Regions from separate parts of the Homo sapiens genome. Here region 1 is linked to region 2. The links come from fine-mapping of genetic effects on gene expression. A gene starts in region 2. The other region holds a variant in brackets. All regions are shown on one strand. Distances are between the middles of the regions. Region 1 overlaps DNAJB6 (DnaJ heat shock protein family (Hsp40) member B6). Region 2 holds the start of DNAJB6 (DnaJ heat shock protein family (Hsp40) member B6).

Region 1 (2,799 bases), 78 kb after region 2:
TTGTGTTTGTGAATTCCACACATACTGTAGGAGTATCAAGAACACGTAACTGTTAAAAAAGGAAAAGTAAAATTACTGAACAGGAAAGAAAGAATAAAGCAGGTCCTTTGTTTTTTTGGCTGAGGAAAGCAGCCTGCCCTGGAACGCTGTAGAATGTCTCCCTTTTTGTGAAGCACAGCATGGAGCTCTCGGAACTGAAGATGGGAATCTAACCCTGCCCTCAGCTTTCAACAGCTCGAAGTTTGTCTTTTTAATGAAACTAATTTGTGTATTTATACTTAAGGGTTTTCAAGTCCTTAAACTTGATAAGAAAACTTAAGTCGTTTTCTATCAGGACAAGTTTTTAAGTAGTCACTGGTGGGAGAGCGTGCCTCTGTGGACTGTGCCCAAGGCTGGCGGTCCCACGAAGTCCCAGAGCCCGCGAGCCGGTGCCCAAGGCCATGTCTGTGATTTGCAGGAGGTTCAGGTGACAGGAAGGCCTGCTCTGTTTTTCTCACTTCAATTTTGGACTTTTTTTTTTTTTTTTTTTTTTTTGAGACAGTCTCGCTCTGTCGCCCAGGCTGGAGTGCAGTGGCGTGATCTCGGCTCACTGCAACCTCTGCCTCAAGGGTTCCAGCGATTTTCCTGCCTCACCTCCCCAGTGGCCGGAACTACAGGTGCTTGCCACCACTTCTGGCTCATTTTTGTATTTTTAGTAGAGATGTGGTTTCTCCATGTTGGACTGGCTGCTCTCGAACTCCTGACCTCAGGTGATCCCCCCGCTTCAGCCTCCCAAAGTGCTGGGATTACAGGCGGGAGCCACCGCGCCCGGCAATAGTGGAGGCTTGAAGAACACCGGAAAGTGGTTTCCTTGTACCGGACCCGCCCCTCCCCCACCATCCCGGCAGCCCCAGGGCGGGTGAGGGCGACTGCAGTGTGGTCACCTCAGGCTTTCCGTCCCTAGCTCATAAAGGCCCAGTGGCAGCAGTTGCTTTAAAGGAGCTCCGTTACTCCCTTTGTTCTGGGGTCTTGGTAAAGTTTGCTTTGCTGAAGCGGAGGAACCGCAGGCGGTGCTGACCCCCCCACCCCGCCCCCATCCCACGGGGTCCCTTGGGTCCCGGGGCACGAGGCTCCTCTGAGGGACACGGCCTCCAAGAGCTGGCTCTGCCCTGGCCGCCCTCCACAGTCACGGCGGCTCCCCGCATGCTCCTCGGGACGGAGATCTCCTGGCTTCCTCCCGCTTCCTTTCCTCTGCGTTTTCCGCAGAGCCGCCTCCCTGCTTTGGAAGCAGGTACTCAGCGGCCTCTGCAGCCGCCAACGGCACACAGGCCTCTCTCTGTTCGTTCTTTCTTTCCGTAACCGTAGCTTGAGGCACATTTCCTAAATATGCAGCATGGAACGCTTGGCGGTTCTGAACGCGCATCTCGTGCTGCTCCTGTAGGGCGGTTAGGACGCGCTCCTCTGGCGAGGAAGGTGGCAGC[C/T]TCCACTGTGCACGGGTCACAGGCGAGTGTGGTGTGGTGTGGTTGTGGGTGGGGTGTGGACTGGATCTGCAGGCTTGTCCCTCTCTCGTGGAGAGCTGTCGGGGTCCAGGCAGTGCTCAGTGGTGAGAGCCACAGCACATTTGAAAGTCCACATGTGTTTGCCCCACTGTGGTCCAGGACATGTGTGAGCCACACTCAGTGGACTTGCACCTGTGACATGTTGGTCAGCGTGGCGGCCGTCAGCTGGGTGTGGAATGCATCTGATTGGAGCCTGGCACCCGGCCTACCATGATTGTGATTCTCTGGGGCGAGTCCTGAGTGTGGGCAGGGCCTCAGGCCCCCAAGAGGGCTGTGAGCAGGCACCTTCCTGTGAGGCACGATGCCACCATGTGAAGTTGTGTGGGTCTTTGGAGAGTTCTGGCAGGTTGAGGGCCTGTGCGTGTGGGACCCAGGCCTGCCCTGCCTGCTGCCGGCCATGTTCCCTCTGCCCAGTCATGTTGACAATTGTGGCCAAATTCAACATCGGGCCTGTTTCCTGCACCCACGTTGGCACACACTGAGTTCAAGACAGTTTCTGCAGAAATGAATCCAGAGGTGTTTATTTCTGGCACGTTGGATCAGACGTTCAGAGGGTGGGCGTCTTTCTCCATGCACTTCAGCTGGATCAGTCAGTGTCAGCCATTGACTTTAGCAACAGGGAAATGAAAGACTTTCCTCAATAAGAAATGGGACTTTCTCACGCTGGATGGCACAGAGCTGGCAAACATGAGGCCAGTCCACACCAAGGCTTTGCCTGCAGAAAGGCTGCACTGTGGCCAGCGGGGGAAGCGGAGGAGACACCTGTGGACACCCTCCCCACAGGTGGGCACACCTTTGCGCAGGCCCAGTGTGCGTTCTGAAGGAGAGCCCAGGGTGGGGTTCCGGGACTGAGGTGCAGCCGTGTCCAGGGTGGGCTTCTAGCTCTGCCGCTGGGCGGAACTGGGGTAGGTCCCAGGGTGGGGTTCCAGGACTGAGGTGCAGCCGTGCCCAGGGTGGGCTTCTAGCTCTGCCGCTGGGCAGAACTGGGGTAGTCCCAGGGTGGGCTTTTAGCTCTGCCGCTGGGCGGAACTCGGGTAGGTGGGAGTCCTCACTTCTCTGCAGGGTGGTGAAGCTCTCTGGGTAGTGTGAGCAGTTCTCAACGTGCACCTTGGAAAGCGCCCGTTTTGAGGTTTAGCTGTGGCCAAGATAGATGACTTCATTTTGTTGCTTTTTGTTCTTAACATGGGGAGATATTTAGAAAACATGTTTGGCTCTTGCTGGGGAAGCAGTGCTGTTCCGTACAGTGTTTTACAAGCCGTGT
Region 2 (2,799 bases):
GTTCAGGAAAGGTGTAACAAAAAGGGATTTTTCTTTTTTCTTGAGACAGAGTTTCGCTCTTGTTGCCCAGGCTGGAGTGCAATGGTGTGATCTCCGCTCACTGCAACCTCCTCCTCCTGGGTTCAAGCGATTATTCTGCCTCAGCCTCTGCAGTAGATGGGATTACAGGCATGCACCACCACACCTGGCTAATTTTTTTTGCATTTTTAGTAGAGACGGGGTTTCTCCATGTGTCAGGCTGGTCTCGAACTCCCAACCTCAGGTGATCCGCCCGCCTTGGCCTCCCAAAGTGTTGGGATTACAGGCGTGAGCCACCGCACCCAGTTGAGATTTTTATTTCTTAAAGGAAAGGATAAGGTGGGCCAGGACTAAGACAACACAGTAGCAAACATCTGGCTGAATGCTGGAGAGGAAGACAGTGGGAGATCCAGGCCAGGCTCCATGGACGAACTGCTTGTTGGCTCCTTAGGCTTTGGGTCTGCGGGACCCTTTCGCTACTGGGAATGGGAGCCTGTCTGACTGCACTGGGTCTGAGACTCCCTGCTCCTGCTGGTCACCATCTACACGCATGTGGTGTTGGTCTCCAGGGTTAGAACCAGAACCCCTGAGGACGCGGGAAAGGCTAGGAAGCCTGGGGATGACCTAAAGTCCAGCTATCAAAATGCGCCGCGTTTTCAGAAAAACTACTGCCACGATTTAACCTAAAAAGCTTCATCTGTATTTTCTGCCACAGTTTGCTTCCGTTTCCTTCAGTCACTATTCCCTGGCGAAGTCTCCACGCGCTCCCGTTCGCCGGGGAACTTAGGGTATCCGGGCTTCCCTAAATTGACAAGCGGGGGCCGGCGCCTTCGCCCGCCTTCGCTGGCCGCCGCTTGGTTTGTTCTTCTTCTCCTTCGGGGACTTCTCCGCCCGCGCCCGCGCCCGCGCCCCAGCTTTCGTCCCGCTGTGCGGAGATGCCACCCAGCTCCACCGCAGGACCGCGGAGCGAGAGGCGGCAGACGCGCTCCGGGGGCCGCCGGTCAAGAGGAAGATGAAGGGCGCGACGACTTCGCGGTTTCCAGAATGGGCTCCTTCTGGCCCAACAATAAGTGCCATTTGGAATCTTCTCGGCCTTCTCTGTGCCTTCCGCGCGTCTGGGCTCCCCGGTACCGTAGACCCGGCCCCGAGCTCCGCCCCCTCGCCCTGGGCTTCCCCGCCCCCTCGCCCCCAGTCTCCTGGGCTCTTCGGGGCGGCGGAAGAGCCGAGAACCTTCGCGAAGGTGGGGCGGGCGCCCCCGAGGTTGGGCCCGCGGTATGGGCAGTGGAAACTGCGCATGCGCGGCGTCAGGGTCGGGCGGAAGTTGACGCCGCCGTGCCGCCGCCGCGTGACGCATTTCCTGTTTGTTGTTGGAGAAAGGAGAGAAAGGAAAGCGCGAGGAGCCGCCGCCACCACCAGCGCAGCAGTCCTGGAGCTGTGAGGAGATTCGGGCCGTCACCCTGCCTCCCCTGCGTCCCGCCACCGGCCGCTTCTGTCCTCGGTGAGGGTCTGTTCCGAGGGTCGGGGGAGGTCGCCTAGGGCCCCGCGCGCGCCCGGCAGACGGCGGACCTCACCCGGCGCCTGGCAACAGCGCGGGGGGTGACCGGGGTCGCCGGCCGGGGAAAGGACTGGACGGGGCGGGGGCCGTGGCCGGGGTTGCGGGGCGAAGGGTGGGCGGGGTCCTCTGGGTCAGGTCTGGGGCCGGGGCCGGGGCTGGGGTCTGGGGCCGCCCGGCCGCGTCCTCCCCGCCCGGCGTCCTTGCCGGAACGCGGCCCAGCCTCCGCGGCGGCGGTTGGGGGTGGGGCCCGGCCTGGGAGCGGCCGGCTGGGGCTCGGCTGGGGCTCGGCGGGGCCGGCAGCGTGGGAGGCGTGGAGCGCCTTCTTTTTCTAAGGCTCCCGCACTCGCGTCTGAAACCAGAAACGGGAGTGGCTTGCGGAGCAGGAATGCCGCAGCCGTGCCGCCAAGTTCGGAGGGAGAAGAAGCAGGTGGGGGACCGCAAAGCCCTGTTTCTAGAACTCCGGACGGATTGTTCAGAAGTTTGTGGAAGAGCAGGCTGCCTTTCTCACTCAGAATGTTTGTCTGCTTTGCTTTGCGTTAAAGAATCTGCACCGTAGTTGATGCAACTGAAGTTTATATAAGAAGTTTACATTAACTCTTACCTAAGGAAGGTCAGTGACACACGCAGTGTAAACTGCAAATCATATATTGGCTCGAGAAAGGTTTTGGCACTAGCGAATTTTTTAAAGGATGGGTTTGCTAGTCAGACGTAAACTTCTGTGCTAACTTCTCACGTAAACGGGGCAGGAAACAGCGCAAGTAGAACGATCGTGCCACCACCGAAGGGGTGCCGCCTGCGAGCTCGGAGGCTTCAGCCTGTTTGGGAAGAGTAGGCTGAGCGGCGCTCTTTGTAGTTTTCAACGTTTTTATTGAGTTGCGAATTTTAGTAAGGATTTGTCGCTACAATTTAAGCCAAATTATTGATTTAGTAGAAAAGTTAGAGTGAAGACCGAAGAAAGGAAACAGACGTTAACCATTAAAGCTTGATTGCTGCTGCTTCGTGTTTAACCGCACTTTTCCAAATAGTGTTGCGTATCAGAACGATTCATGATTTCTGAAAGGAATTATATGCAGCCGCCTTACTCCTCCGCCAGTCCACCCGTCCCGCGTTCTCTCTGGGTTTACTCCAGACTTCCTTTTTTTTTTTTTCCTGAGACGGAGTCTGTTCTGTTGCCCAGGCCAGAGTGCAGTGGCGCGATCTCCACTCACTGCAACTTCCAGCTCCCA

Evidence for each region. PIP is the estimated chance that this variant, and not a neighbour inherited with it, causes the effect.
Region 1: its variant is the best candidate, but not a certain one, in a credible set for the expression of DNAJB6 in whole blood (INTERVAL, PIP 0.52).

Annotation. Positions count from the first base shown.
Region 1 is chr7:157,413,209-157,416,007 of GRCh38, forward strand. The region is part of intron 9 of DNAJB6 (DnaJ heat shock protein family (Hsp40) member B6); the gene reads left to right. Among named protein-coding and RNA genes, the nearest start is that of DNAJB6, 78 kb to the left of the region's middle. The variant C/T (reference allele first, on the strand shown) is at 1,461.
Region 2 is chr7:157,335,629-157,338,427 of GRCh38, forward strand. It overlaps DNAJB6 (DnaJ heat shock protein family (Hsp40) member B6), which reads left to right and starts at 1,376. Exons shown (of 10, transcript NM_058246.4): 1 at 1,376-1,516. RefSeq lists enhancers at 824-1,326, 1,327-1,830, 2,559-2,608 and silencers at 1,089-1,248, 1,439-1,648, 1,709-1,898.